Linked DNA regions of Homo sapiens. The protein of the gene in region 3 interacts with the protein of the main gene of each other region in a biochemical or structural test. Each region holds a gene or a part of one and is shown on either strand. Other genes may lie near its edges.

Region 1 (7,821 bases), on a different chromosome or scaffold from region 3:
ATTGCTTGAGCCCAGGAGTTCAAGACCAGCCTGGGCAACATGGTGAAACCTTGTTTCTACAAAAAATACAAAAATTAGCCAGGCATGGTGACACATGCCTGTAGTCTCAGCTACTTGGGAGGATCGCTTGAGCCTGAGAAGTTGAGGCTGCAGTGAGCCATGATCGTGCCACTGCACTCCAGCCTGGGTGACAGAGTGAAACCCTGTCTCAAAGAAAAAAAAAGTTTCTCGGCTGGGCGCTATGGCTCATGTCTGTAATCTCAGCACTTTGGCAGGCCAAGGCCGGCAGATCACGAGGTCAAGAGATGGAGACCATCCTGGCCAACATGGTGAAACCCCATCTCTACTAAAAATACAAAAATTAGCTGGGTGTGGTGGTGCGTGCCTGCAGTCCCAGCTACTCAGGAGGCTGAGGCAGTAGAATCACTTGAACCTGGGAGGCAGAGGTTGCAGTGAACTGAGATCATGCCGATGCACTCCAGCCTGGCAACAGAGTGAGACTCTGCCTCAAAAAAAAAAAAAAAAAAAAAAAAAAGAAAGAAAGAAAAGAAAAGAAAAAACAGTTTAATAACTTGGTTTAAAGGTCTAACCTTCGGGAATTTTCACCCTGATCAAATGTCCCAAGACCTGGAGCAGATCCTGTAGGATACATTTCCAAAGCCTCCAGTAGCAGAGAAAACTACGAGCTAAGGAAGTCAAGAGCTTTCCTATAGACCACTGGGGCTCATAGTTGGGGGAGCAGAATTCTGTCACAATTCCAACTAATATGACTAGATCCAGGAAGAAGAGAAAGCCAGTATAGTCCTAGACCAAGAGGATCCTGAGAGGAAAAATAAGTAAAAGGAAATAAGGAAAATGTCCTTCATGGTTCACTGGCCATGGGCAACATGATGCTTAGGGTCATAATGGACAGAGGTGTTGAGAAATCTCATCCATTGCATCTTGCCCTCATGGCCAGATGTTACCTAAGAGTGTCAGTCAGGAAAACCTAAATGTGGATAATTGTTTACTTCTCCCACTGTTTCTATGCAACTTTATCCTTGAGTATCTCCAAGTTTCTTTTATGTGCTGTGCCAGAGAGAACTACCTCTTCTTCAGAAACCCCTCCAGAGCTGTCACTGCTAAGTGGCTGCTCCACCAAGGACTACATTTCCCAGACTCCTCTGTGGTTAGCTGTGGTCATGTGATGGAGTTTTAGCCAATGGAATGTGAGTAGAAGTAACACGCACCACTTCTAGGCAGAGCCCATAAAAAACTCCCATGTGCACTTTTTCATGCTCTTTTCTTACTGCACTGAGGAGTGGAGACACCCCTAGGCGACCTTGAAAACCACATGCTGCAGAAGGCAAAGCCCCTCTCTACCTGTGTCTCTGAATGAATGCATGAAAGACAGTTGCCCCACTGACCTGTACTGTTACATGAGCAAGAAATAAACTATTGTGTTTGAGCCATTATAGATTTGGGGTTCTATTATAACAATTAGCCTATCCTAATATCCTTTTTAATATAGCTGTAATCATTGTGTACAGAAATCTCTGTGCCCTTTCCCCTTTTCTTTGAATCTTACCACAAACTAAAAAAGGAGAATTGGGAGACTTAAATTTAAGTAGCTGTTGGGGACAAATGACACTTACCAAATTAGTGGTCACAACATTCAGATCTTAGAGCCAGAAGAACAGGACTACAGCAGAGCCTCACTTCAAGACAACCTAATATATTAAAGTAAAACAAAAAGTAAAACATAAGGCCTATAAAACAGATATTTTAGTGTGTGATAGTTAATTTCCAAAGGGAGTTGTCCATTTACAAAGGAATATGCCACTGTTTTCCAGTAAATGACAAGCTTCCTTACTGCCTTTAAAATGAGACTTACGCCTCCCCGCTCCCAGTCATTTTAACATAGAATTTCTGAAGAACAGATCTCCCCTGGTACGTCAGCTATACGAAGACTAGATGCTGACTCAGGGGATGACTTAGAAGCCGGGAAAATCAGGGTATGATTTCTATGCCTACGTGCTGTTCTCATGTATGTGTCAAAACTTTTCTCTTGGGAACTTAACTTTCTTGGGTAGGAACTTCCAGAGGTCGTGAAATTATAGGCTTTGTAAAGAACTATGAGTTTTTAGACAAAGTTAAAACAGACACATTGTGTCTTTGTGCTTAATATCATCCCAGATACGATGGCACAAGTAGGAATGAAAATAAGTCCTCTGTAAACAGGGCGATAAGATAATGGAGGTTCATACACAGAACAATCAGAAACGTGCTCAGTAAAGGCAGCACAATTATGTACATCTTTTTACCAGGGCTGTCATATTTTACCAGGTTAAGTGTGAAAATACCATTTGATGGCACAGGACACGTATTTGCCTAGAACAGGGTTTATTTTTATGTCTGATCGCTCAGTATAAGATCTAGGAAGCAAACAATCCAGAACTCTGAACAAACATTCTGACAGCCTGAAACGGAATACTCAGGTGAGGGGAGGAAGAGGAGGCAAAACAAGAGGGTTGACAGGGAAAGGCATCAGTTGGGCTGTTCTCCCCAGGGTTTCCGTCTTAGTATTGTTTTTTTTTTTTTTTTTTGCATTCTTTTCTGATCCTGTGGAGAGAGATATCAGATCCCTTTGGGGCCGTATTTAGAGGGTCTCCCAAATGCAGTCCCTACTCCCAACTCTGGGCTGGGGCTTGGCAAGCTGTAGGCGTCAGGGAACAAGATGGCGCCCTACGGTGAAGGGCGCTGAGTGAGGGGGGGCCAAAAGTGGGCCTTCACTTACTCGGAGGCGCTGGCTCCTCTGAAACCCAGACGCTGTCAACTCCCTGGGCCCAGGAGTCACAACCGCTTTCGTGCTCTGGGTTCTTCACTTCTTGTGATCAGCTCCACATATTTTTCTGATGATGTCACCCATTCTGACTTCCTACATTTTGAAAGTTGATCTACAAGTAAAATCTTTCGTGAGGCTTAAAAAAAAGAAGAAAAGAAATAAAAGGTGTGCTATAGGGAGATGGAGAGGAAGAGAAAGGCCGTTGCCTCTTTATTTTGAGATTTGCTGCAGCTGCGAGTGCCACTCCCCAACTAGTTTCCTGGCTTCAGAGGGAGGCCAGTGGCCGGGCGTGGGTGACGTCAGGGCCAGGCCTGAGTCATCGCCAGCAGCCCGGGCCGGGCTGCCCTGCCACTCGGAAGGGGACAAAAGGAACCTTTGATGTCCAGAGGCCCTCCTCTCAGCACACTCGCCGGCACAGACCAGCAGGCCAGGAGAACATTCCTGCCGTCTCCCCACCCCCAGCCGCCCTTCCTACTTCCGGAACAGCCCCAGACAGATTCAACAAGGCCTCCCCAAAGGACATCACCCTCCTGCATGGCAGAGGCATGGCCGTGCTCTGTCAGAGAAGCAGGGAAGAAGAAGAGGGTGTTTCCCTGGGGACCTCTCACTGCCCCTCTGCCATCCCCCTTCTTCTGTGTGGTGCCCACCTTACTCAAGGAGTTGCAGTGGTATTGAAAGAGATGCGGAAAGGTGGAAGGCACTTTTGTCACCATCCCCGGGCAGCTCCTGGTGGTCAGTGTCTATTCTCCTCTGCCTCTGTGCTGTGGCCCTGGGCTTCGCTCCCTACCCTGGGTGCCAACATGAACTAGCTCTTCCTGGATTTAAGACATGACCACTCTTTAAAGGGGATATTTATATCTCAGTGCCTGGCATGAGGCTTGGTAATTATATGATGAATTAAGGAATGATAATTGTAAAATAAAATAGTAGAGGACACATATTAAATACTTAGAGTGAACATTCAAGCCTCTGTGCTTTATGAAGATTATTTCATTTATTGGTATTATCACAACAAAAAAGCTGTGAGGTAGGTACTATTAATATTCCTAATGCTATAGAGAAAGAAATGGATGCTCAGAGAGGTTAAGACACTTCTCTAAAGCCTCACAGCTAGTTAGTTCATGGCAGAGCCTGGATCATCTAATCTCACATCCTGTTTTCTTAATCACGGTGCTGAGTGGCTGGAGTGAATGAAGGAATATTGACCAAGGGCAACCTGGCCAGGAGAAAAGAGACAAAGATGGGACTTGAAACCACATCCTACAAGGAAACAATGAAACAATTAGGAATGTTCTGGCAACATGGGCCTCATGCCTTCTTACTGCGTCAACACCAGGTCTGAGGTTTGGCAAGTGGGTGGCTTACTCAGCGTAGCCAGGAGGGCGAATCAGTCATCAGGTTCAAGTGGGGATGAGAAACTAGGGAGGTCGGATGGACGCAAGCCTGTGGCATGTGGTAGATGCAAAATCCGAGAGCCACGGGGTACAGAGTACCTCGGCGGGAGCCAGAGTCCACGCTTGTCTTTGTTGCCTTCTGGCCTCATGGATGTAGGTGGGAGGGTCAGTCCATCTGGGGTGGACAAGAAGGCTACAGGAAGAAGGACATGACGGCACTCTCAAAGATTCCAGACTCAGAAAGAGTTGGAACTGTGGTGTGGTTTTAGAGTGCAGGAGGAGTGAGAAGGGATTGGGAACAGATCTGGACCTGACAATGGTAGTTACTTTCTACTCTTAGCGCCCTCCTACCAGGAATCAGCTGCCTTTCTGGGCCTGAGGAAGAGTCCTGGCAATGGCTGTGGGCAAGCAAAGGCGAGGAGGGGTGGTGAGAAGAGAACATCTGCTTATCGGGGTATCTGGGCCCAGCATAAGAATGACCTACGAGGTAGCTTCTCCCTCTGTGGTTTATGATTCTGTGGTTTGTACTTTTCCATGATTCTCTTAGAGTAAATGTCTCATTCCAAGAGGAAGACAAAACCAGGAATTTCCAGCCCCTTGTGGAGGCCTCCTTGATAACACACCCACAGCTTTCCTTCCCACTGTGGGTGGGGTGTCAGGTCACAGAGACCACTCTCCCTGACTCAGGCAATCTATGCCTCTGATGCCTGGGACATTGTGTAGTTCTACCTTGTTCCTGGGAGCTCTGCCAGTTGCCACTCTGAGGAATTGCACTTGTTCCATGTAGTTTGAATCCCTAGGCAGGTGGAATTTATAGAGGTGAATTTCACAAGAGAGAAAGCTACATGCTTTTAATCAAGGGAGCAGCAGCAACTGATCAGGTTCACTGTCAGTGTCTGCACACAGCCTGATCTTGGGCTGAGGAAATCGCTTTAAGTTCCAGGCATTTTTGGCAGAAGACTTGTTTATTCTTTTCTTCCTTCTCTGCAGAAAATGCCTCTGGGCACCTCCCTGCTCTGTTTCCCCAAAGACTCAGTGGCCTTGCTTGCTTCATATACACAGGTATTTATTTCTCTAATAAGATGAACAGAGGCTGATTATTTCTTCACCCTGCATCCTATCAGGATAATGTGAACAGAAAAATAAAGAAAAGAAGCAGAAATGATCAGTAAGCTTAAGTGAGACACAGATTCTTGGGTTATATGCTCTGGGGTTGATACTAACAGTGAAAATAAAATCAGAGAACTGGGAAAAATATCCACTTGGAGATACAGAGAAGTAAGTACAATGGCACTTCCCTGGTCTCTACGTGAAGTGGAGCATCCTCCTCCTTTGCTACAACAAATGCAGTTAAATGCTGGTAATTAAAACCAAACCTTTATGAATGCAAGGAATTCCTTGGAAGACTTGTCTATACTTGTTGACTTAGATTTCTCTCATTTTATTCCCTCTCTTTAAAAAAAATTATTAAGGTATAATTTACATATCAGAAAGTTCACTCACTTAAAGTGTACAATTCAATGGGTTTTAGTGTATTTACAGAATTATGTAATTTGTAATCTATTTTTTTTTAACACTTTTTGTCACCACCCCAAAAAACACCATGCTTATTAGGTATCATTCTTCATTTGTCCCCACCTACCAGCCCTAGATGACCACTCATCTAGTTTCTGTCTCTATAGATTTTCCTCTTCTGGACATTTTCTACAAATGGAATCATACAATATATGGTTCAAATATTTGTCCTCTCCAAAACTCATGTTGAAATTTAATCTCCAATATGGCAGTACTGAGAGGTGGGGTCTTTCAGAGGTGGTTAATCCACTCATGGATTAATGGATTAATTGGTTAATGGATTAATGGGTTATCACAAGAGAGAGACTTGTGGCTTTATAAGAAGAGGAAGAGGGACCTGAGCTAGCACTCTCAGCCACCTTGCCATGTAATGTCCTGTGTCACCTTGGGACTTGGCAGAGAGTCCGCACCAGCAAGAAGGTCCTCACCAGATGTGATCCCTAGACTTTGGACTTCTCAGCCTTCATAACTGTAAGAAGTGAATTTCTTTTCTTTATAAATTACCCAGGTTCAAGTGTTCTGTTTAAGCAACAGCAAATGAACTAAGGCATAGAATACTTTAGTACTTCTTTCCTTTTTATGCCCAAATAATATTCCACTGTGTGGGTATACAACATTTTGTTTATCCAAATCTCAGTTGATGAACACTTGAGTTGTTTTCACTTTTTGGCTGTTATGAATAATGTTGCTATGAACATTCATGTGCAAGTTTTTTTTTTGTGGACATGCATTCATGTCTCTTGGGTAGACACAAAAGAGTGGGATTGCTGAGTGATATCGTACTATGTTTAACATTTTGAGAAACTATCAAACTGTTTTCCAAAGTGCTGCATCATTTTACATTCTCACTAGCAATTTATGAGGGTTCTGATTTCCCCACATCCTCACCAATGCTGTTATTGCCTGTCTTTTTTATTATAGCCATCCTAGTGGGTACAATGTGATATCTCATTGTGATTTTGAACTGCATTTAACAAATGACTAATGATGTTGAGTGTGTTTTCAGGAGCTTATTGGTCACTTGTATATCTTCTTTGGAGAACTGTCTATTCAAATCCTTTATCTTTCAAATTGGGCTTTTTTTTTTTTTTTTTTTTTTTTTTTTTTTTTTAGATGTAGTTTCCCTCTTATTGCCTCAGCTGGAGTGCAATGGCACAATCTCAGCTCACCACAACTTCCACCTCCCGGGTTCAAGCGATTCTCCTGCCTCAGCCTCCCGAGTAGCTGGGATTACAGGCATGTGCCACCACACCTGGCTTATTTTGTATTTTTAGTAGAGATGGAGTTTCTCTATGTTGGTCAGGCTGGTCTTGAACTCCCGACCTCAGGTGATCTCCCTGCCTCAGCCTCCCAAAGTGCTGGGATTACAGGTGTGAGCCACCTGGACTAAAATTTTTTTTTTAAAGTTTTCAGTTTTAGGGATTCTTTATATATCCCAGACACAAGTCCCTTATCAGATATATTTTACAATATTATCTCCCTGTCTATGGTTGTCATTTCATTTCTGGTTGGTGTTATTTGAAGCATAAAAATTTTTAATTTTGATGAAGTCCAACTGGTCTTGAACTCCCGACCTCAGGTGATCTGCCTGCCTCAGCCTCCCAAAGTGCTGGGATTACAGGCGTGAGCCACCACACTCGGCCTAATTTTTTTTTTTAAATTTTTGAGTTTTAGGGATTCTTTATATACCCCAGACAAAAGTCCCTTACCAGATATATATTTTACAATATTATCTCCCTGTCTATGGTTGTCATTTCTTTTCTGGTTGGTGTTATTTGAAGCATAAAAGTTTTTAATTTTGATAAAGTCCAACTTATCAATCTTCTCTTTCATCACTTGTACTTTTGGCATCATATTTGAGAAAACATTATCTAACCCAAGGTCATGAAGATTTACACCTGAGTTTTCTTCTGAGAGTTTTATAGTTTTAGTTCTTACATTTAGATCTATGATACACTTTAAGTTAATTTTGCCTATGGTGTGAGGTAGGGATCCACATTCATTCTTTTCATGTGGCTATCTGGTTGT
Region 2 (7,109 bases), on a different chromosome or scaffold from region 3:
GGCACTATAGGTACACGCCACTATGCCTGGCTAATTTTTTGTATTTTTAGTAGAGACGGGGTTTTACCATGTTGGTCAGGCTGGTCTCGAACTCTTGACACCCACCTTGGCCTCCCAAAGTGCTGGGATTACAGGCTTGAGCCACTGTGCCTGGCCTACCTCATATATTGATATATTTTTGGAGACAGGGTCTCACTCTGTTGCGCAGGCTGGAGTCCAGTGATGTGATCATGGCTCACTGCAGCCTCAACCTCCAGGGATCAAGCAATCCTCCTGCCTCAGCCTCCCACGTAGCTGGGACTACAGGCACACGCCACCATGCCCGGCTAATATTTGTATTTTTTGTAGAGACACGGTCTCACATATTGCCCAAGGTGGTCTTGAACTCCTGGGCTCAAGTGATCTGCCCATCTTGGCCTCCCAAAATGCTAGGATTATAGGCGTGAGCCACTGTACCTATCCTAATAAAATATTTCAGAACCAAATGGAACATTTTATTACTTTATATATTTCTTTATTTAAAGAGAGTCTTGCTCTGTTGCCCAGGTTGGAGTGCAGTGGCATAATCTTGGCTCACCGTGGCCTCAATCTCCCAGGCTTATACAATCCTCCCACCTTAGCCACCCAGGTAGCTGGGACTACAGGCATGAGCCACCATGCTTGGCTAGTTTTATTTTATTCTTGTAGAGACAAGGTCTCACTATGTTGTCTAGGCTGGTCTCAAACTTCTGGGCAGTCTTTCCACCTCAGCCTTGCAGAGTGGTACGATTACAGGCATGAGCCACTGTGCTCAGCCCCAAATGGAATATTTTAGAGGGTATTTACAACAACAGCATTAGCTACCAGTCCCTTTCCATTCACTTTTGTAACTTCTATCTTACAAGACAGATTGTTCTTTTTTTTTTGAGACAGTCTTACTCTGCCACCCAGGCTGGAGTGCAGTGTCGTGATCTTGGCTCACTGCAGCCTCTGCCTCGAGGGTTCAAGGGATTCTCATGCCTCAGCCTCCAAGTAGCTGGGATACAGGTGTGAACCACCATGCCTACCTAATTTTTATACTTTTTTTTTTTTTTTTTTTTGAGACCGAGTCTCGCTCCGTCGCCCAGGCTAGAGTCTAGTGGCGTGATCTCGGCTCACTGCAAGCTCCGCCTCCCAGGTTCACGCCATTCTCCTGCCTCGGCCTCCCGAGTAGCTGGGACTACAGGCACCTGCCACCACACCCGTCTAATTTTTTTGTATTTTTAGTAGAGACGGGGTTTCACCGTGTTAGCCAGGATGGTCTCCATCTCCTGACCTCGTGATCTGCTCGCCTTGGCCTCCCAAAATGCTGGGATTACAGGCATGAGCCACCGTGCCCTGCCTAATTTTTATACTTTTAGTAGAGATGGGGTTTCACTATGTTGGCCAGGCTGGTCTCGAACTCCTGGCCTCAAGTGATCCACCCACATCGGCCTCCCAAAGTGCTGGGACTGCAGCCCGGCCAAGATAGATTGTTCTTAGCCTCTCACATGTGGTAGATGGCTTGTGGCTGGGCATAGCCAGCACCAGCACGTGGCAGGGGCTTACTGCTTGCTGGGGAAGGGCCTGGGCCTGGCTGCCTGAACAGAATCCTGGTGCTGCTGCTTATTTAAGCTGTGTAACCTTGACCAAGTGATTTCACACCTCAGTTGTCTCATCTGCAGAACAGCTGTCGGTCATGAAGATTAAGCAAGTCAGTTCATATAAAACACATATACAGTGTCCGGCACATGGTAAATAATCAATGTTAGCTAGTATTCATTACTACCACCAACACTACTAGTATTGCAATTTTATCCTGCAGCTATACTTTTGCTGGAGCTGGTTATCACAAGAAAATGAGCATGAAGTTCAACCCAGGAACTTAAACTGTCAGCAGAAGTAGAACCAGGAGAGTGACAGGATGAAATGGGGCTGAGGATGAGGTGGTGACACCACACAAAAGAGCAATTCGGCTTTTCCTCCCTGGCTTGGAAATCTGGGGGAGTGTTCATGCACACAGACAATAAGAAACACCTGGGAGGAGCCTACTCTGTGACTAAACCCTACACACTGTGATGCTATAGACAGGAGAGTGATTTTTCTTGACCAAATAATCTGCTCATTAAGGGCCAGTGGCAAATACCTGTGAGGCCTATCATGCTAGAAAAAACTCAAAAACGAACAAAAGACTGCATGAAAAGGTGCTCAACATCATTAGTCATTAGAGAAATGAAAATAAAAACCACAACGAGATACCACTTCACATTTGCTGTAAAGTGACACAACCCGAGTGTCCACCCACAGGTGAATGGATAAACAACATGTGGTCTACATATAACGGACCATGACTTCGGCATGAAGTGCTGATACATGCCACAACATGATGAACCTTGAAAACATCATAGGCATTATGATTCCTCTTATATGAAATACCTAGAATAGTCAAATTCATAGAAACAGAAAGTAGATTTGAGATTACCAGGGTTGGCGGAAGGGAATGGGGAGTTACTGTGTAACGGTACAGAGTTTCTGCTTGGAGTGATGAAAAGCTGTGAAAATAGACAGTGGTGATGGTTGTACAACACTGTGAATATAATTAATGCCACTGGTTTGTACACTTAAAAATGGTTAAAACTGCAAATTTTATGTTAGATATTTTACCACAGTAAAACGTATTTAAAAAACAACAAGCAAGGCCAGGTGCAGTGGCTCATGCCTGTAATCCTAGCACTTTGGGAGGCCGAGGCGGGCAGATCACCTGAGGTCAGGAGTTTGAGAACAGCCTGGCCAACATGGTGAAAACCTGTCTCTACTACAAATACAAAAATTAGCTGGGCGTGGTGGCACGTGCCTGTAATCCCAGCTACCCGGAAGGCTGAGGCAGGAGAATTGCTTTAACCCAGGAGGCAGAAGCTGCAGTGAGCTGAGATTGGCGCCACTGCACTCCAGCCTAGGCAACAGAGCAAGACTTCATCCAAACAAACAAACAAACAAACAAACCAAAAAACACCCCAAACAACAAGCAAACAAACAAAACTAACAAAAGGCCATTTCTCCTGCTTTCCAATACATTTGGAAAGGGCACGTCATCTATTTTCTATGGACACATGCTTCATTAGTGTTCTTCTAATTAAAAATACACACTTTTTTCAGCTTACCCCTCCTTTCCAATTCCATCAAAATATCTAACTTATTTTTAATAAGTTACACGATACTTAAAAATATAAGTAAGTCGGCCGGGTGCAGTGGCTCGCGCCTGTAATCCCAGCACTTTGGGAGGCCGAGGCGGGTGTATCATGAAGTCAGGAGTTCAAGACCAGCCCGGCCAAGACGGTGAAACCCCATCTCTACTAAAAATACAAAAATTAGCCGGGTGTGGTGGTGGGCACCTGTAATCCCAGTTACTCAGGAGGCTGAAGCAGAGAGCTGCTTGAACCCGGGAGGCGGAGTTGCAGTCAGCCTGGGTGACAGAGCAAGACTCCGCCTCAAAAAAAAAAAAAATATATATATATATATATAATATATATATTAAGCATTTACTATGTGCCAGGCACCATATTAAGTGCTTTAGATATGTTCTTTCACTTCATCCTTACAATAACCTTATGAGCTATTATTCCTATTTACAAATGAGGTACAGAGAGGTTAAGTAACTTGCCAAGGGTTACATAGTAAGTAAGAGATGGAGCTGGCATTCCAAATGAGCAGTCATACTCCAAGCCTGGCTCTTAAATTATTGGAGAGGCAGCAGAAAATAACAGAAAAACATTAGGATTGGGGTTGGTAGGTCTGAGTCAGTCAGTTCTGGAGAAAGGGGGCAGCTTGCTGAAATCAAAGGGGAGTTGTAAAGGCCAAATCCGAGTGCATGTGAAAGGCTCTGCTCAGGGGGTGTCGCATTAGTAGGTGATGATGCCTGCTTTGTGAACTGCCTGCTGCACAGTTTCCTGGGTATGCACTTTTTTTCCCTTTAATACAATAAATGAAATTCATAGACTAACCACATGAGGCGGTTTCAAAGCACGAATAAATTCACTGGTTTGCTGGTAATCCGTGTGAGCTGAGAAAGAAATGTAATCAACAGACATTTTCAGTGGTAACTTCTGTCCAGACATAGTAGTGATTTCTTCAGGTTCAGACATGATGTGCTGTGGAAAATAAAGAAAAATAACAAAACAAACTACCCAGTTATAATCGTAAAGGTACATTTTCATTTTTTTCATGCAGTCATAAATTCATGTTAAATTTAGGACCTTACGCACAAAATCATTCTAATATAACTGACTCAGTAAATATCAAATACTCATGTTCTCAATCAAGCAAACATTTAATGAGAAAAGTAAACAAATTAACTAAAACTCATCTATCTGGAGTGCTGGCAGTGAGAATCATAACTCTTATGCTTAGAAAGACAAACCTGTATTCCCAACTATTCTTGTGCTCTCCAAAGTCATTTCCTAGATATGTGGATATATTTCTATTCTGAAAATCTTTGTTTTTTCAAATAGGGTCTCACTTTGTCACCCAGGCTGAAATGCAGTGTGCGATCTCAGCTCACTGCAGCCTCGACCTCCTGGGTTCAAGCAAGCCTCCTGCCTCAGTCCCCCAACTAGCTAGGACTACAGGCACGTGCCACCACACCTGGCTAATTTTTGTATTTTTTGTAGAGATGGGATTTCTCCATGTTGCCCAAGCTGGTCCCCAACTCCTGAGCTCAAGTGATCCACCTGCTGTGGCCTCCTGAAGTGCTAGGATTACAGATGTGAGGCACTGTGCCAGGCCTGGAAATTTTTTTTTTCTTTTTTTTTTGGAGATGGAGTCTTGCTCCGTCACCCAGATTGGAGTGCAGTGGCGCCAATCTCGGCTGACTGCAACCTCCGCCTCCAGTTTCAAGCAATTCTCCCTGCCTCAGCCTCCCGAGTAGCTGGGATTACAGGCATACGCCACCACGCCCAGCTAATTTTTTGTATTTTTAGTAGAGACGGGGTTTCGCCATGTTGGCCAGGCTGGTCTCGAACTCCTGACCTCAGGTGATCCGCCCGCCTTGGCCTCCCAAAGTACTGGGATTACAGGTGTGAGCCACTGCACCCAGCCTGGAAATCTATTTTAAATACAACATTGTCACTAAAGAACTTTATAGAATAAGGTAAAGTAATAAAGATTATCAAAGAATCATATCATATTTTTAAAAATAAAATAGAGGATGAGAATGTGATGCCTGGATGCTCAGAAACTGCCTCCCAAGTTCTGCATATATTTTCTACAATTTCTACATCCCTAAGAGCTGAAAATCAATGTTTCATAATAGTAGAAAGTGGTCAACCCAAACACATTCTACAGCTTTTTAAGATCATATGTATTAGTCAACCTCTTCTTCATGAGAGGACGGAGAGTATTCACGTGTTTGTCTCAAACAGGTTCCTGTCCATTCTTCTCTACTTGCAACCAGATGAGCATTTCTCAAACTTTAATGTGTATATCAATCACCTGGGACCTCATTATGCCATTCAGTGTCTGCATAATTCTACATCCTACGCACATCTCTAGCTACCTATTCCCGTCCTCATTTTTAAAAATCAAAACTTGTATTATTTGAAGAACTACTTCAGTGCAAAAACCTGTGAGGACCGTGCCACCTCCGTGATTCTGAATAGGAATAACACAACAGCCTATGACTGTAACTGACCTTGGCAAGTGTCCCTTCTACACAGTATCCCGCTATAATGACACCATTCCTCTTATCAGTACACCAGCTTTCAAATAATTCTCTGGATAAGCCACTTTGCATCATGCCTGGGGAGGCCATTACAACACTGGGACCAATGTCATCAAAATGATCCATGCTCTAAGAGAGAAAACAGAATGGGAAAAGTATGTTAGCTACCAGCAGCTGACAAAGCATTCTTTCTTTTTAAAGAATAACAAAAGGCTAAGAGATTAATCACATCACTGAAAGAGCCTTCACAAGATCTGTAAACATTTTAAGTTCAGTTGCCAAATTCCTAAACAGTTTAGGCTAGGAATGGTAGAAAAACCAAGTAATAAAAAGCGGTAAGTTCACCCCGATCTTCAAAACCTTCTGTTGGTAGCTAGAGGGCCATCAGAACCATCAGGACCATCTTCAGCGCCTAGCAGGCAGGCAGAAAAGTAAAAGGAAGAGTCAAATGGGTCTTGATCTACCCAAGACACAACTCTGAAAAAATATTCCCAAAGACTCACAATAGCTTTGCATGCTCCATGCATGTTTTGAGCTGGCCTGGAAATCAAAAGGTTTAACATTGTTCTAGGGAGAACTTGTCTACAATCCTTAAGCAGTTAACTTAAAATAAATACTTTATGAACAAAGCCTATTTACAACTGGAAGTCCACTTTTAAATTATTTCGGATATCAATTATTTTATTATGATTCAAGCATCGAGTTAAACAGTATTTTTTAAATTAAATAAAATCAGATTTTATTGAATGCTTCCAGAAAAGTATATAAAAATTTTCATATATAGAATTTGCAGCACTAATCAAAAAGATGATTTGGTTTGAGTGAGAAGAGAAACTTAAATACATAATACAAAATATTTTTCTCCTCAGAACTTTTTATGCCTACGGCAAAAGAGATGAGTATTATAAATACTGAGAACACATGGCTACTTGGGGCAAGTGGCAAAATCTGTTGAAGCAGAAAAAGAATGTCAGCTGCTGAAGTTTTGATTTTCTGCAGAAAAACGACACCTGTTGAGAAGCGGTAAGACTCCAGCAAGAGGAATTCAGCCAGAGTCACTGACAAGCACTGCCTACGATTTTTATTTTATTTTGATAGAGACAGGGTCTCACTATCTTGCCCAGGCCGGTCTCAAACTCCTGAGTTCTAGTGATCCTCCTGCCTTAGACTCCCAAAGTGCTAAATTACAGCTGTGAGCCATCACTCACGGCCTCGTACCTCCTACTACTAATGACTGATTTGGTTTTATCCATCCTTGTCTTTCTTCCACAAGCACTCACCTTGAGGTTACTAATGTGTTTGAAAACAAAGGGATTATTGATGTTGATCTGTTTGCGGATTTTGTCATTCATGGCATTTACATATGTCTGGTACACTGCCATACACTTCTTGGCCA
Region 3 (7,109 bases):
TCAAAATGCCAAATAAAGCAAGACTAAATAATAAAGCTGCATCAATGGTCTCTGGAAAGCTCTTTTCTATGATGTGTTTGAACTTGGAGAAAGCATCAAACTTTAATATAAGCTTTGCATGTTGCTAATGCGTTTTTGGAAGCCATAAATCAGGCAGGAAAAAAAAAACTAACAAAAACTAAGTGATACAACGTGAAAATGGCAAAATATACACTCCAAACATTTTTTATTGCAAGAAACAAAAAGCACACAACAGCCTGTACATACATACAAAATACTAACTATAGACAGACAAATGTAGAACATGTCATCATGTTCCTTAGTGTAAAACCTAAACGATCTAAAAAGGATCATACATTAACTGTACAACACAGTGTCATACAGGGATAATGCTATCATATTTAATATGAAACAGTGTTACGGGCACAAATTACCCATTTCTACAAAATAAGTGTGCAAGTGATGCCACATATTATCCATATTCAACTGAGCTGTCATCAAAATACATTTTATTTACAATATGTACTATGATCAGTTGGATATTAAGTTCTAAAATGATTTACTTCACTGCTACATTATAAAGGTAAAAGCAATGTGTAGAAAAAGTGTGAGATTGTGTTTTTACATACTGCTTTTGTAGTTGCCATCGCTGGTTCAGTTCGACTTCTAAAACACAAAATAAAAACAAAAATTAACATTAGCTATTTATGAATTTTTGTGCTAATAAATTTTAACACATTATCTTCAATAATACATTTTTAGGAACCTAATTTTCCTTTGGTATAAATATTTAACAGCCAATTTCTGAATGAATAAATTACTCTGATTAATCTTTACCACCTTTGAGCAGTTTTAAGATAGATTTGTGGTTTGGAAAAAAATTCCATACTAGGGAATTCAAAAATAGGTGTACCCTGCCACTTAAAACAAATGTTTTCTGAAAGGTAGTATAGGGATTTTATGTTTAGAAACGTAGTTTATTCTTAATAAACTGAAAATTTTAAATTATATAATTTCCCAGTTTCTGAATGCGTAAATTTTCACACATCAGGAAGACTGCTGTTGTTAACATTTGTAATTTGAATCCCTGAGAAATTGCTGTGCTCCCAAAACTAATTTTCAAATCTGGAGGGCCAGGCTGATAGCTATTTTCATTTTTCAAATGTCTCAAAACAACAATCAAGGATTGAACAAGAGGCCAAGGTGAGAGGATCACTTGAGCCCAGGAGTTTGAGACTAACCTGGGCTGTAACATAGTGACCCCATCTCTTAAAAACAGAAAAAAAAAAAAAACTGAACAAAAATTCTCACTCCCAGAAAAACACAATATAATCAGAGTATTTTAGTTAAAAGAACTGACTTAAATGGCTGTGTAGAACTGGACAATTTGATGTTTAAAAGACATAAACCCCAAAAGAAATTATTTTAATCCACACAGGAAAGGGGAAGAAGTTGAGTTGCTAGATTATAGCCTTTTAATGCTTAAAGTTTAAGGTATCTTGACTATAGAGAAATGTTAGCATCTAACAGGAGTTTCTAGGTGTGTGTATAATTTGGAATTTGAGATAAAAAAAAAACTGAGCTTTGATTTTCTAGTATTTGCTCAAAAAAAAACTGAGATGCATTTTATGAGGCAAATTTATTACAAACAGAACCCTATATATTGTACATTAACATATAATTCTGTGTAAGAGGCAACTTATTTTGCCATGTACTTCAAATAATTCTTAAGAGTTTCTATCAAAAAATCTACAGAAAATACATTTGCCATTTTTTAAAAAGCACTTGGTAAATTAAAGTAAAATTTCACACTGGATTGTAGGAATTAATTCTCCCCATAAATTTATAATTCTTAGGCTGGGTGCGGTGGCTCACGCCTGTAATCTCAGTACTTTGGGAGGCCAAGTTGGGTGGATCACCTGAGGTCAGGAGTTTGAAACCAGCCGGGCCAACATGGTGAAACCCAGTCTCTACTAAAAATCCAAAAATTGGCCAGGCTTGGTGGTGGGCACCCATAATCCTGGCTACTTGGGAGGCTGAGGCAGGAGAATCGCTTGAGCCCGGAGGCTACAGTGAGCCAAGATTGTGCCACTGCACTCCAGGCTGGGCAACAGAGTGAGACTCCATCTCAGGAAAAAACAAAACAAAACAAAACAATATATATATATACACACATATATATATAATTCTTAGAATCATTTAAAGTTAAGAACACACACCATTAAAAGTTCACTTGGCAATTACAACAAGGAAAGTATTCAGCTTTTTAAAGTAGCTATTATATGGAAGATACTGCACAAAAGGACCTCTAAGTGTTAAGATATGGAATATAACTTTACAACAAACTAATGAGAAAAATCTTAGAATACTTGCCCATATGAGGTAAAGCTCCAAGAAATGACTTTATTTTTACCTTAATTTCAAGAACACTTTCCATTCCCTAGCACTGGCAAATTCTAGAATTTTTCATTGACTCAAAATAATTTGTTCCAATTTCAAACAATACTACCTAATTCTAAGTGAAAATCACTACTCTTTAAATAACCTATGTTGCTGCCCTTTTCACATATTATAGTTCTGCTATCACTACTGAAATTGCAAGAAAGCAGAGAAAGTTAAGGATATAAGGTTTTAATCCTGCCCCAGGTTAGTGAATACCAGCTCCGGACTAGTTGTGAGACTGCTCTCTTCCTACTCCAATAATGTGCATTTAGCATGTGCCAGACACTATTTAATTCTTACAACCCTCTAGAGTTAAGTACTCACGTCCCTATTTTATTTTTGAGGAATCTGAGGCACAGAGACTTACCCAAGGTCCAAAGTCACACAACTGGTATGAAGCAGTAAATGGAGTCAAATCTAAGCCTGATTTCAGTGCCCATGATTATAAATCCTATATACTTTATGCCTCTCAGCCAAAGCCCCTTATTGATAAAGAGTAAATGTTAGCATTACTGAATACTCTTGATGCTGTCAAAATATTTAGGACCGATGTCTACAACACCAAATTTTTGTAGTGAAGAAAACTGAAGGAACCCCCACAAAAAAAAGTAGTCAAAGAAAGGCACAGAAATAATGTGAATATCACTTTCTTGTATCTGTAAATACTGGCCATATGGAGAAAAATTTTTCCTAATAATGGCCCTCTCACAACAGGCTAAGTCAATTTAACTGGGGGAGGAAATCAAAAACAAACGAACAAAGAAACCTACTATCCTCACAGTCTTGAGAAGATGTATTCATTAAGGTTAAAGTAATGAGTTCAGTTCTAAAATACAGTTTTTTCTCACAAAATTAAAAAAACTAAAAAAAGTCTATTTTGAGAAATACATGAGATTTGATACTTACATAACATATGTCTTGCTTGTAGATTTAACACCTCCAATAGGAATTCTTCTAACAATTACAGAAGAATTCTTAGGAATCAGAGCATTATCATCAGTATATTCTGTAAATAAAAAGACAGAATTGAATTTCCATTTGGGGATTTGAGTGCGTAACCAAGAATTAGAAAACTTCAAATATAAATTTCATGGGAAATGACTTTAAATATAATAACTACAAGTTCCTTGCAACTAGATTACTGATATTGTCAGAACAAACATCCAAAGCCCTAAGAGGGCTTCTTTTCAAAGGACAACCAATATCATCAGCAGGTTCTTGGCTCTAGCACTTCTACTTTTGTGGAACTCCAAATCTCAGTAACACCGTCATTCTTTAGTTTAGTCTGAAATGCTGAACATGTGAATGGTGAAAAAGCCGTTATTCGGAATGAAGATATTCTGTCTCTCCTAGTCCCTAAACGTTAGTTGAGTATTACAATCCCTGCATTCACAGAAATTATTACTGAGGAAGATAGACTAAAAATTAAATTATGACGTTATGAATAAAGAGAAAATGGTTTTCTAATAAGGAATGAATAGTGGAATACAACTTCAGATAGAATGTTGATTCCAAGAAAGCCCCTTGGAGGAACTTCTACTGGATACTTAAAGACTGAGAACCCAGCCAGATACAGGAAAAAAACTGGTTGAGGACTATTTCAGGCAAAGGATAAAAAAAGCATGTAGAAAAATGATACGAAACGGCTTGAAGAGCCTAAGAAAATAAAAGAAAAGAATGACAGAAAGGTATAGACCATACACTGATTTATATTTTGTTTTGAAGTGCAACAGGAAGACACTGAAGGATTTTAAGCAAAGTGATTATTTGCTTTTTGTTAAAGAAAAAAAGACTACTGGCCAGGCGCGGTGGTTCACGCCTGTAATACCAGCATTTTGGGAGGCTGAGGGGGGCGGATCACGAGGTCAGGAGATTAAGACCATCCTGGCTAACACGGTGAAACCCCATCTCTACTAAAAATACAAAAAAATTAGGAAGGTTTGGTGGTGGGCGCCTGTAGTCCCAGCTACTCAGGAGGCTGAGGCAGGAGAATGGCATGAACCTGGGAGGCTGCAGTGAGCCGAGATCGCGCCACTGCACTCCAGCCTGGTGACAGAGCAAGACTCTGTCTCAAAAAAAGACTACTGTGGCACCAATGTGGAGCACAAACTGTAGGAGAACAAGAGTAGAAACCAGGGGACTAATAACCAGGCTGCTAAAAAATCCAGGTAGAGATAATGACGACCTGTGTTATGATGTGAGAAATAAAGACAGAATGTTTGCAGGTAGGATTGACAAAGCTTGCTGATGGACCGAATATGGGGGAGATGAAGGAAATGAAGAAGAAAGAGGAATCAGGCCAGAGGAATCCCTGGGTTCCTGGCTTCAGTCATCGGATAAACAGTGATGTCACCTTCTGGGAAAACCAAGAGGGAGAAGAATGGATCCTATTTTTACACTCCTTGGGCTATTTGCAATACTTGTATAAGAATGAAATTAAGAAAATGGACCTTAACTATGGTAAAAAGATTTGCTACAGAAAGAATCTGTAAAATTACCAAAAAGAAAAATTACCTAGAGATGCAAAAATGTATCCATCTCCTTTAATCACACAACCAGGCCTTTTTATTGTCATTAAGTTTACTTGCTTCACTTAAAGTTACTCTGCACAAAGTGACTATCTCTGTTCTTCCGATTATTACGCTTACCACATATGTAGGCATATTCGGCTTTTAATGTATATTAATTATTTTTAGTCATAATGCTAATAGTATTGTTAGAAATGAAATTGTTCAGGCAAGGGTTATTTTCTATATACTTCAAGTAGAAGGCACTATCTCACAGGCATTCAATTAGAGGTAGGCAATTTCCTAGATTTAGGCATGCCAATGTAGGACTATAATCTTTATCTTGGACAGTTCATGATAGCCCCAAATTCCGAGGAAGCTTTGAGTCAGAAAAACTGAGAGCATGGGGTGACTAGATTTTTTTAAAAGTTAATTCTAGAAATAAAACTTTGTGTCAAACACCTGACAGGAAGTTTCTGAATATGTAACAACTCAATGCACTCACAAGAGCTTTCCAAGACAGCTTATTAATTTGATTAGCACCGTACTGTGTCAAACTAAAAGGTGCCTCAATGCCCTTCAAAACAGATGTTCTAACTGACTTTTTAAATACCTGAATTACAATGATTTCTTACCCCTCAAAGTATCTTTCTAGGGGTAATAAAGACACTTTGGGGGTATTTCATTTAAAATACCTCCTTAACAAGTAGTCTGTTGGCTTCAAAAGACCCTTTCTGCTTGCCAGTTTTTTTGACCCCAGACATGAAAGGCATGGATGAAATGAAAAACAGAATGAATCCGAGAAATGGAGAGTAAGAAAGGTGACAAGGGTCATTTATAAACACTTCATATTCAGCTTCCAAACCTCTCACACTTTAATTTCAGAACGAAGGATGTTTTGTTTTTTAGGGGTCGGTGTGCAGAAAAGTTTCTCATATATAACAAAGATTACTTGATATTCATTTTGAAATACAGTCTAGAAACAAGCAGGATTCTTGTCTAAAATCCATGGAATTCTGACCCAAGCGTTTCAGTCTTATCAAGATTTAAGGGTCCTATGCCAGGCACAGTGGCTCAAGCCTATAATCCCAGCACTTTGGGATGGCCTTGGGAGGCCAAGGCAGGAGAACACTTGGGCTCAGGAGACCAGCCTGGGCAACATGGCAAAATCCCCATCTCTACCAAAATAAAATAAAAAAAAATTACAATAAATTAGCCAGGCATGGTGGTGTGTGGCTGTAGTCCAGCTACTTGGGAGGCTGAGGTGGGAGGATCACCTGGGCCTGGTAGGTTGAAGCTGCAATGAGCCAAAATTGTGCCATTATACTCTAGCCTGTGAGGATGTGTCTCCAAAAAAAAAAAAAAAAAAGATTTAAGGGACCTAAACATGCACATAATTCCAAAACTGTAAGGAAATGTTTTACAGAAACATGGTAGATTAGGGATTTTAAAATTATAAGAATGAAATTAAGAAACTGGACCTTAACTGTGATAAAAAGATTACCATAGTTTTCTTTAGTAAATATGTTGAATATCGGTGCTAAAACCAAATGGCATTCTACTCAACTGCCTTGTGACATTGGATACTATTTCCCATAAAACTAGTTAAGTAGCTACCATCAATATCTCTTTCTCTCTTAATTTGAGGACTGCATAAAATACACATTTTCTCCCTCAAAGCTCCCTTTTCTTAACAAACCGAACATCAAAGCTTTCTCCAATAAAGGGCAGTTCACATAAATATAAAAAAGAAAATGTGCTGGGCAAAAACACATTCCTGGCTTTCTGGGTTTGAATTACGTATCATTTATTTCCTGGGCTAGGAAAAAAAAATTGGTTACACAAAGTCACAAAACTCTTAAATTTCCGGACAGGATTCTTTTAACTATAACTTACCCAGTCTAAAGTTGCATTCACATGCCTGTAATCCCAGCCCTTTGGGAGACCCAGGTGGGTGGATCACTTGAGGCCAAGAGTTCGAGACCAGCCTGGCCAGCAAGACAAAACCCCATCTCTACTAAAAATACAAAAAAAAATTAGCTGGGTGTAGTGGCGCATGCCTGTAGTCCCAGCTACTTGGGAGGCTGAGGCATGAGAATCGCTCAAACCAGGGAGGCGGAGGTTGCAGTGAGCTAAGATGGTGCCACTGCACTCCAGCCT

What was found.
Region 1: the proteins of RBBP6 (region 3) and ZBTB38 form a complex in vitro, tested with the Homo sapiens proteins (one study listed by BioGRID).
Region 2: the proteins of RBBP6 (region 3) and CPSF3 form a complex in vitro, tested with the Homo sapiens proteins (one study listed by BioGRID and IntAct).

The regions. Positions count from the first base shown.
Region 1 is NC_000003.12:141,363,760-141,371,580, reverse strand, and holds the start of ZBTB38 (zinc finger and BTB domain-containing protein 38), read right to left. Parts: upstream 3,078-7,821; 5' UTR 2,777-3,077; intron 1,710-2,776; 5' UTR 1,635-1,709; intron 1-1,634. UniProt on the Homo sapiens protein: Transcriptional regulator with bimodal DNA-binding specificity. Binds with a higher affinity to methylated CpG dinucleotides in the consensus sequence 5'-CGCG-3' but can also bind to E-box elements (5'-CACGTG-3').
Region 2 is NC_000002.12:9,440,551-9,447,659, reverse strand, and holds part of CPSF3 (cleavage and polyadenylation specificity factor subunit 3), read right to left. Parts: coding exon 6,994-7,109; intron 5,843-6,993; coding exon 5,684-5,842; intron 4,146-5,683; coding exon 3,999-4,145; intron 1-3,998. UniProt on the Homo sapiens protein: Component of the cleavage and polyadenylation specificity factor (CPSF) complex that plays a key role in pre-mRNA 3'-end formation, recognizing the AAUAAA signal sequence and interacting with poly(A) polymerase and other factors to bring about cleavage and poly(A) addition.
Region 3 is NC_000016.10:24,542,502-24,549,610, reverse strand, and holds part of RBBP6 (E3 ubiquitin-protein ligase RBBP6), read right to left. Parts: intron 3,449-7,109; coding exon 3,349-3,448; intron 667-3,348; coding exon 630-666; coding exon of another isoform or gene 576-629; exon of another isoform or gene 210-575; intron 1-209. UniProt on the Homo sapiens protein: E3 ubiquitin-protein ligase which promotes ubiquitination of YBX1, leading to its degradation by the proteasome.